Regions from separate parts of the Homo sapiens genome. Here regions 1 and 2 are each reported to be linked to region 3. Evidence: microRNA targets listed by miRTarBase, many of them from high-throughput screens and not tested one by one. Region 3 holds a microRNA gene; each other region holds the end of a gene's coding sequence.
The links. Region 3 holds the annotated microRNA hsa-miR-6778-3p (UGCCUCCCUGACAUUCCACAG, at 1,559-1,579, opposite strand). A microRNA usually pairs through its seed, bases 2 to 8, with sites in the 3' UTR of a target mRNA and lowers its output. Matches are read on the target gene's strand: a 7mer-m8 pairs with bases 2 to 8, a 7mer-A1 pairs with bases 2 to 7 and ends in A, and an 8mer does both.

Region 1 (3,104 bases), not on the chromosome of region 3:
GTTAATATTCAACTAGGTAATAAAGCATTTTATTTTTTTGTTTTTCTTCTTTCTTGCCCTGAAATCTTAAATTTTTGTTTTTCAGAACACATGTGTACTGTGGTTTATTTTGATGACTGCATGTCCATACATCAGTGTAAAATATCCTGTGAGTCCATGGGAGCATCCAAATATCGCTGGTTTCATAATGCCTGCTGCGAGTGCATTGGTCCAGAATGTATTGACTATGGTAGTAAAACTGTCAAATGTATGAACTGCATGTTTTAAAGAAGACAAATGCAAACCAAAGCAACTTAGTAAAATAATAGGTATAAAAAGTTATTCTGTAAGTCTGTTGGTTGTATCTTGTATCAGAATCCCAGTAAGTTAAGTTGTAAAGACTTTGGAATAAGTTTCTTTTAAAAATATGACATAGCCAGTGATGTGTTTAATTATATAACTGTTCTTACTGATTTTATTGCCCCCTAGCAATAAGCCCTTTCCTTTGAATACATGTACAACTTTGGTCATATGAGAAGCAGGTGCGCAGAGAATTCCTTGAAAGATCTGAGGTTTTTAACATGAAGTCTGACGTGGTTTTCCTCTAGCATTCCAAAAGGTTTTTGCTTTGAAAGTGTTAGCAGAAGCATGTTGATGTGAATTATGATTTCTTCATGTGCTACTGTTAGCACACTGAGTTTTTATAGTTGCACATCATTCCTCATTGTGCCTTGTTTTATCCATTTTATAAATAGAGTAGATATTTGATATACCACTCTGATAACTCATATAAAAATATCATCATAAAAAGCTTAATTTCATCCCTTTTATGTTGGTTTTAAAAGGTAAATGCTTACCATATTTTATAATTGAGAACTCTTACATAGTAGAATCCATTCTATAATACATGTGTTGACAAAGCTTTAGAGAAAGTTTCCTATTCTCTTCCATTTCCCCTGCCCAAAGTGCTGACATAGGCAGTGATGAAGAATCTTTACCAAGATTTTCAGGGTGTACCTATGAAATTGCTTTAAATGCACTGCTGGTGTAAATAATTAGCAAGCAAAGCGTTTCTGTGACTTCAGGTACCAGCTTAAAGAGCACTAGGGATGGGGAACGAATGCCAAATCAGACTCCACCTAGAGCACCAGGAAACAGCTTGTACCCTGGTAGGGAAATGGTGTTGCTGAAAGGGGAGGCTGAGCCAGTGCGAGACTGAACTTGTGCAGCCTTAGCCAAGACAAAGCAGTGTTTTTCAGCAGACGGCTGATGGGACAGGAATTGAAGAAGAGAATTGACTCGTATGAACAGGACAGGGTGAAAATGCTGGGAATTATTATGGGAAACAAAACTATCTATGTTCATATTTTGTAATATTTCATTTGTTAAGTTTATATCTGGATATAATGTTCTTTTTAAACAAGTATAATCATATCGTCGGAGGTTAAGATTATGAAATTTTAGAATCTCTATTCAAGATGATGTTCACTCCAAATACACTACAGAATTTAGTCAACATTTTATATAATGTTTCAATAAATGTTTCTTTCAATAAAGATACTATGTGCCCTTCATAGTAATAAAATCTCAATCTTAAAGCATGAATCTAAAACATAAATATTTATATTACAGACTCAATTTTACAAAATTACTAATTGCTCTAGTGCATATTTGAACTACAAGCAACTTTTTAGGAATACCTCTTTATACGTCTACATATTTTAGTATATAAAAATAGATAATGCTCTTGGACACATTTTGTATTATTCATGATCTGAATAGTAGTTAGTTAAAAGATCATTTGTAATATTATGATCAACTGTTATAAATTAAGGTCTTAATACCTTTTCTGCTCTTTCAAATAACTCTAATGAATATTCAAGATATTTTAGCCTTTTAAAAAGTTGAGATTTAGCTCATGGATATATTTTTTGGTAGGGAAACATTAGGGTCTCCTTTTCTTCCTTTTACCTAGAATGCCTCATTTAAAAGTGCCTTGAAAACATTTAGCTCCCCTTCTTCATGAGCATCTGTAGAGCTGAAAGTATTCTGGAACTTTAGACAGAAAGCTGAAAGGAATCTGCAGTCTCCTGCTGCAGTTCAACTCTGCTGTTTTTCAGTCATTTCCTACTGTGAGTGGAGTGATGTTTGTGTGTGTGTTGGCAACATGCCTAATGTTTTCTTAATGATGACAACAAATATTTTAAAACTGCATTTATCATTTTTTAGGTCTTCATTAAATTTTAAAATGTAATATCTGTTTCCCACCCCCTACATTAGGAGGATAATTTCTTAAACCACATTGTTTTAATTGATTTTTCTTATCTTGATTTCTTTCATTAGAAACTATCCCTAAATGTAAAGATCTTTTGCCTTCAAATTTGGCTTATTTTTTCTGATTTATGAGGGTTTGAAAGAAAGAATTCACCTAAAAGATTCCATTTCCAGTTTTATAATGTATTTCAGGTTCTGAATAACAATATTTTTCCAAATTGAAAGTAAATATTCCAGAAGTTGATAGCCTGGTTAAAAGTTAGATCCTCTATTACCATTCTAAGCACATTCACTTCTATATTGAAGTTTTGGTAAAAATTCTTTTTTCTTTTTTAATAAAAAATTAGGTTATTACTTTTTTTATAACCAGATTTTTAAAGCACTAGGTTTTAAATCAGTGGGTATCATAAAAGCCATATATAAAAGATCCTTTCTTATAGTAAGACTTGTGCTTGTTAGCAGGTTTTTCTGTTAGTTTTTCCCCCATAACATTTAATTATTACTAAAATTGTATTTACAATAGTGGTGCCAAATCAAATGGTAATTTAAATAAAATCTATTCTGTGTTTATGTAGGGTGGTATAAAAAAGAGGTCTTCATTTAGACATGTGATTTCTAAAATTCCAGAAAGCAAAATTGATAAGATGTTAGAAATTTGGACCATTATTTATAATCAGGGTAGCATTAAAATGGAGAAAAGAAAGTTTTCTGAAAAAATGCAGTAAATATAAGCCACATTTCTAAAGTTTATTTTTATGAAAGCTTCTTTTAAGATTTTGAAATCTATTCTGCATTCCCAAGAGTTTATGTTTATTGTATTTTATATGATCTACAACATATAAAATTGTGTA
Region 2 (3,104 bases), not on the chromosome of region 3:
CACAACTTGCAAGGCATTGGAGAGTTCATACTGGAGAAAAACCTTACAAGTGTAATGAGTGTGGCAAAGCCTTTAGTGTTCATTCAAGCCTAACTATACATCAGACAATACATACTGGACAAAAACCATACAAATGTAATGATTGCGGCAAGGTCTTCAGACACAATTCGTACCTTGCAATTCATCAGAGAATTCACACTGGTGAGAAACCTTATAAGTGTAATGAGTGCGGCAAAGCATTTAGTGTACATTCAAACCTAGCTACCCATCAGGTCATCCATACTGGAGAAAAACCTTACAAATGTAATGAATGTGGCAAGGTCTTCACTCAAAATTCACATCTTGCAAATCATAGAAGAATTCACACTGGAGAAAAACCTTATAGGTGTAATGAGTGTGGGAAAGCCTTCAGTGTTCGTTCAACCCTAACTACCCATATGGCAGTCCATACTGGAGACAAACCTTACAAATGTAACCAATGTGGCAAGGTCTTTACTCAAAATTCAAACCTTGCAAAACATCGAAGAATTCATAGTGGATAGAAACCTTACAAAGGACGCCGGGCGTGGTGGCTCACGCCTGTAATCCCAGCACTTTGGGAGGCCGAGGCGGGGGGATCACCTGAGGTCTCGAGTTCGAGACCAGGCTGGCCAACACGGTGAAACGCTGTCTCTACTAAAAATACAAAAATTAGCTGGGTGTGGTGGTGCACGCCTGTAATCCCAGCTACTCGGGAGGCTGAGGCAGGAGAATCACTTGAACCTGGGAGGCGGAGGTTGCAGTGAGCGAGATCATGCCATTGCACTCCAGCCTGGGCAACAGGAGTGAAACTCCATCTCCAAAAAAAAAAAAAAAAAAAAAGTAACCTTACAAAGGAGTGCGGCCAGTTTTTCAGCCACAAATTCTTTCACAACATCAGAGAATTCATTCTTGAGACAATTCTTACAAATACAGTGACTGTGGCAAACTCCTGATGAGTTTAAGCATTAACAGACATCAGAGTTCAAATCCTGTGAATATACTATGTATGACAGAAGCTTTATCCAGGTCTCAGAGCTCAATACGCATCAAAAGATACATCTTTGATGAAGTCACACAAACGTAACATGCATGCTGAGACTATTACTCCTGGACCACAACTGTAGGTGAGGATTCATAGGAAGAGTAGAACTCAGTCTCTAGTTTCCTCATAACCCTCTGATATTATATACTTCAGCATAATCAGAAGTCCAAATGTGTTAAAACTCATTACATGATACATATCAAAGGTTGTAGGATGTTTGGAAATGGCCAATTACTTTCAGCTTATAAAATGTTTTGTTGAAGTATTTAAGATTTATTGAAAAGGCTACTATTTATAACTTCCAACCAGAACTTTGCAATGTGCTGATTTTATACATGATTATACGCCTAACATGGTGTTGTTCGGGAAAGAATCAAAGGATGGAAGGGCTCACTCACTTCATTAGGTGAGGATTATTTCTCTCCAAGCTCCTGAAGAAAAAAGACTCTGCCTTTTAAAATTAAATATAGTCTGAATTAGAGAGCACTTGGAAAGGGCAGAGGATGATGAACTATGATGTCACTCATCATCCTTATTGCACTGCAGGTGCCCTTCTTCTGACAGAAGAGCACTGTGGGTATGGGAAGAAATTCTCTACTGGCCGGGCACAGTGGCTCACGCCTGTAATGCCAGCACTTTGGGAGGCCAAGGTGGGTGGATCACCTGAGGTCGGGAGTTCGAGACCAGCCTGACCAACATGGAGAAACCCCATCTCTACTAAAAATACAAAATTAGCCAGGCATGGTGGCGCATGCCTGTAATCCCAGCTACTCAGGAGGCTGAGGCAGGAGACTCGCTTGAACCCGGGAGGCAGAGGTTGTGGTGAGCCGAGATCATGCCACTGCACTCCAGTCTGGGCAATAAGAGCGAAACTCTGACTCAAAAAAAGAAAGAAAGAAATTCTCTACCAGTAGACCATGAAATAGAGCCAGGAAGACACTCGGATTTTTATTAGAGGAGAGTAATAGCTTATTAGGGACTGATGTGTGGTACAAATAATGCAGAAAAGTGGAGGCTACCTTCTCCATCAAATGCCAATAGCTGTTGCATAGCAAAGATTGATTTTTTTTTTTTTTTTTGAGATGGAGTCTTGTTCTGTTGCCCAGGCTGGAGTGCAGTGATGCAATCTCAGCTCACCGCAACCTCCGCCTCCTGGGTTTTAGCGATTCTCCTGCCTCAGCCTCCCAAGTAGCTGGGATTACAGACATGCACCACCACGCCTGGCTAATGTTTGTATTTTTAGTAGAGATGGAGTTTCACTATGTTTGCCAGGCTGGTCTCGAACTCCTGACCTCATAATCCGCCCACCTTGGCCTGCCAAAGTGCTGGGATTACGGGCTGGAGCCACCGTGCCCGGCCGGCCGAGCATAAGAAGTTTAATCAAAGTAACCAGAATCCCATGTTTGTTACTAGGATTTACATTAACTGCTGGAATCACATTTTGCTACTATTTAAGAATGCATCATAGATTTAATGTTTTAACTAATAAAATTTGATGTATTTTATAAGTATGAATGAATCATTTCTTGCCAACATAGTTTTATCCTACCTCAGTAGCATACTTCATAACAGATAACAACACTGCACCATTAAGCTATCGAAGGATCTAGAACAATGATTTCCATTGTTGGATCAAACAACATATAATTTTCAGAAACTAAGTGTATTTTGGTTTTTTTGTTTGTTTGTTTGAGATGGAGTTTCATTCTGTCACCCAGGCTGGAGTGCAGTGGCGTGATCTCGGCTCACTGCAACCTCTGTCTCCCGGGTTCAAGCAATTCTCCTGCCTCAGCCTCCCAAGTAGCTGGGATTATAGGTGCCCGTTACCACACCCGGCTAGTTTTTGTATTTTTAGTAGAGACAGGGTTTCACTATGTTGGCCAGGCTGGTCTCGAACTCCTGACCTCAAGTGATCCACCTGCCTTGGCCCCCCCAAAGCTCTGGGATTACAGGTGTGAGCCACCATGCCCAGCCCAGAAACTAATTGTATTTTGTACTTGAATTATTCTCTCCACACTCTGCCTTGGGATACTTATGTGGT
Region 3 (3,252 bases):
TAAAATGATATTAATGTTTATACATCCATGTCTTCTAGTTTGACTACTATGAGTCTTTCTCTTTGAGAAACATGATGGATCACTGTAAGTTCACCAGAATAATGCAGCCTTGTGAGGCCTCCCAGTGGCCCCCAGCCAGCCATGCACCCTCCTTTCATTCAAACACCTGCCTCTCGAGTTCAGCAACCGGCGCCATCCTAACACATAGTGGTTGCTGATCCCCCTCCTATGTTCCTAGGACCTGGATGCACAAAAGTGAAGCAGGAGCTGTGGCTGACAGTCTCCTTCTGGGGATTCCTTTCTTTCTTTCTTTTTTTTTTTTTGAGACGGCATCTCGCTCTGTCGCCCAGGCTGGAGTACAGTGGCACAATCTCAGCTCACTGCAAGCTCCACCTCCCAGGCTCACGCCATTCTCCTGCCTTCGCCTCCTGAGTAGCTGGGACTACAGGTGCCCACCACCACACTCGGCTAATTTTTCGTGTTTTTAGTAGAGACGGGGTTTCACCGTGTTAGCCAGGATGGTCTTGATCTCCTGACCTCGTGATCTGCCCGCTTCGGCCTCCCAAAGTGCTGGGATTACAGGCGCGAGCCACCTCACCTGGCCGGGAATCCTTTCTGTAAAGCCTGTCACTGCTCCTTCCTAAGCAGCTCTTTAAGGGACTGGGATCTTAATATTTTCCAAGGATCCCAGGTCAGAGTTTTTCCCAGCTCCCTCAACTGAATCTGAACCCCCACAGGAGAAATGTAAACCATGGTACCCATCTGTACCCAACATTCGGGAGCTCACCTTTCCTGTAGAAGATCATGCCAGCTCGGCAGCCTCGCAGGGTCTTGTGAGTGGTGGTGGTCACCACATGGCAGTGTTCAAATGGGGAGGGCACCACGCCAGCCGCCACCAGCCCGCTGATGTGAGCCATGTCCGCCATGAGATACGCCCCGTTCTCATCTGCAATCTTCCGTAGCCGGGCATATTCCAGGTTTCGGGAGTAGCAGCTGGTTCCTGAGACAGGAAAGGTGACACAGCTGCATCAGAGATGTCCACCGGCCAGCTGAGTTGGCTTCACAGTGGCCTCTAGATGTGCAGATCTGAAAGCCCAGAGATTTCTTCCCTTAAAGTCTCAGAGCAAAAATGGAGAATGCCCTCAAAAAGCACCTCTGTGCTAAAGGCAACCACTCTAACTCTTCAACGTCTTGGTGGTTGAGATGGCCCCAACTACTATTGCCAGCGCAGTCAGGGCCTGACATTTCTAGATGCTTCTCTGAGAACAGTCTCACATCTTAATCTACATAGCACAAAAAGCAGCAAACACACATCTGTATCCTGAAAGAAACTAATATATGTAGACCCCAGAAACTCAGTTATCCAGGGCAGAAACTAGCAGTGGGCTCAACAGGGTGCGAACATCTTTCCATCCTCATTCTGTAAGAGGCACCAGGCTACTGGTGAACAAGGTGACTTTCCGCCCCGCGCATCACCTGCGATGATCAGCTTCGGGTGGAAGAGGCGTGCGTTCTCCTCCAGCTGGTCATAGTTGATGTAGCCAGTATCTGGGTTCACCTGTGGAATGTCAGGGAGGCAGGTTCAGGCTGCTTCCTCCAACCACACCTGCCTCCTGTCCTCCCACTTGAACTGGCTCCACCCACCATGACAAGAGGAATGATGTCCTAGATGAGGACTTGAGGGTGAGACAGGATGGATACTGGTGTGTTCAGCCTGCTCAACCAAGTATGGCTCACAGACCCAGGAGTCCCTGAGGAGTCCCAGGGTTGTAGTGAGCCCTGCTGCTGGGGCACTACCTGCTGAGAAGGAACCAAAAAGCACCTGCAGAATGAAACAAATGTGACGGGACCACACAATGGAAACCAAAATGGTTACCTTCAGGAACAAGACCAAAATGCCTGCTAATACTACTTCTATTCCAAGTATAATGAGGCAAGAAAAAGAAACAAAAGGCATAACGATTAGGAAAGAAGAAATTTAAAAACTGACATTACACACAGACAACACAATATACCTAGAAAATCAAGATGCTAGGGGCCAACTGTTAGAATAAGCAAATTTAGCAAGGTCACTGGATACAACATTGAAAAACAAGAAGTAGGGGCTGGGCGCGGTGGCTCACACCTGTAATCCCAGCACTTTGGGAGGCTGAGACGGGCAGATCATGAGGTCAGGAGATCGAGACCATCCTGGCTAACACGGTGAAACCCCGTCTCTACTAAAAATGCAAAAAATTAGCCAGATATGGTGGCGGGCGCCTGTAATCCCAGCTACTTGGGAGGCTGAGGCAGGAGAATGGCGTGAACCCGGGAGGTGGAGCTTGCAGTGAGCCGAGATTGTGCCACTGCACTCCAGCACTCCAGCCTGGGCAACAGAGCGAGACTCCATCTGAAAAAAAAAAAAAAAAAAAGCCAAAAAGTATATAAAAGCAAGAAAGATAGAAAATGAAATGTAAATAACAAAAACCATAAAAGGAAAATCATACCAAACCTTTACACAAAACATCATTGCGTTGTGTATTTTGTGTCACAAAATGCTTGACAAATTATAGTAATTAAGGCAGCACGCATTCATGGAAGGGCAGAGCATCTGGCTTAACCAGAAGCAGAACCACACACAACACAGGTCATTGGATCCATGCCAGTGGTGACGCTGCAGTGCAGTGGGGAGAGGATGACCTTTTCAATCAATGGCACTAGGTCAACTGGGCATCCATTTGGACAAAAATGTTATCTGGATGCCCGCCTCACCCACACAAATCAATTCCATATTCAGCAATCCCACTTGTGAATCTATATCTTAAGAACTTGAAATCAGTATGTCAAAGAGACATGTGCACTCCCATGTTCACTGCAGCACTATTCACAATAGCCAAGTTATGGAATAAAGCCATGTCCATCAACAGATGAATGGACAAAGGAAATGTGACACATATATATATAAACAATGTAATAATAATCAGTCTGAAAAAAGAAATTCTGTCATTTGCAACAACACCGATGAACTTGGAGGACCTTATGCTAAGTGAAATACGCCAGGCTCAGACAGACAAATACTGCATGATCTCACTTCTTTTTTGAGACAGAGTCTCACTCTGTCACCCAGGCTGGAGTGCGGTGGTGCCATCTCGGCTCATTGCAACCTCTACCTCCCAGGCTCAAGCGATTCTCCCACTCAGCCTGCTGAATAGCTGGGACCACAGGCAGTGCCACCACACCCGGCTAATTCTTATATTTTTGTAGAGATGGGGT

Region 1: miRTarBase lists TWSG1 as a target of hsa-miR-6778-3p. Seed matches in the 3' UTR shown: 7mer-m8 at 1,173-1,179.
Region 2: the mRNA of ZNF665 is a reported target of hsa-miR-6778-3p. Seed matches in the 3' UTR shown: 7mer-m8 at 598-604, 7mer-m8 at 733-739, 7mer-m8 at 765-771, 7mer-m8 at 1,703-1,709 and 8mer at 1,869-1,876.

Annotation. Positions count from the first base shown.
Region 1 is chr18:9,399,261-9,402,364 of GRCh38, forward strand. TWSG1 (twisted gastrulation BMP signaling modulator 1) reads left to right here. Exons shown (of 5, transcript NM_020648.6): 5 at 86-3,104. The coding sequence ends at 267. Among named protein-coding and RNA genes, the nearest start is that of TWSG1, 66 kb to the left of the region's middle.
Region 2 is chr19:53,161,891-53,164,994 of GRCh38, reverse strand. ZNF665 (zinc finger protein 665) reads left to right here. Exons shown (of 4, transcript NM_024733.5): 4 at 1-2,571. The coding sequence ends at 542. Among named protein-coding and RNA genes, the nearest start is that of ZNF347, 4.4 kb to the right of the region's middle.
Region 3 is chr17:18,339,256-18,342,507 of GRCh38, forward strand. MIR6778 (microRNA 6778) reads right to left here and starts at 1,631; the gene lies at 1,559-1,631. SHMT1 (serine hydroxymethyltransferase 1) reads right to left here. Exons shown (of 12, transcript NM_004169.5): 6 at 1,477-1,558; 7 at 788-1,000.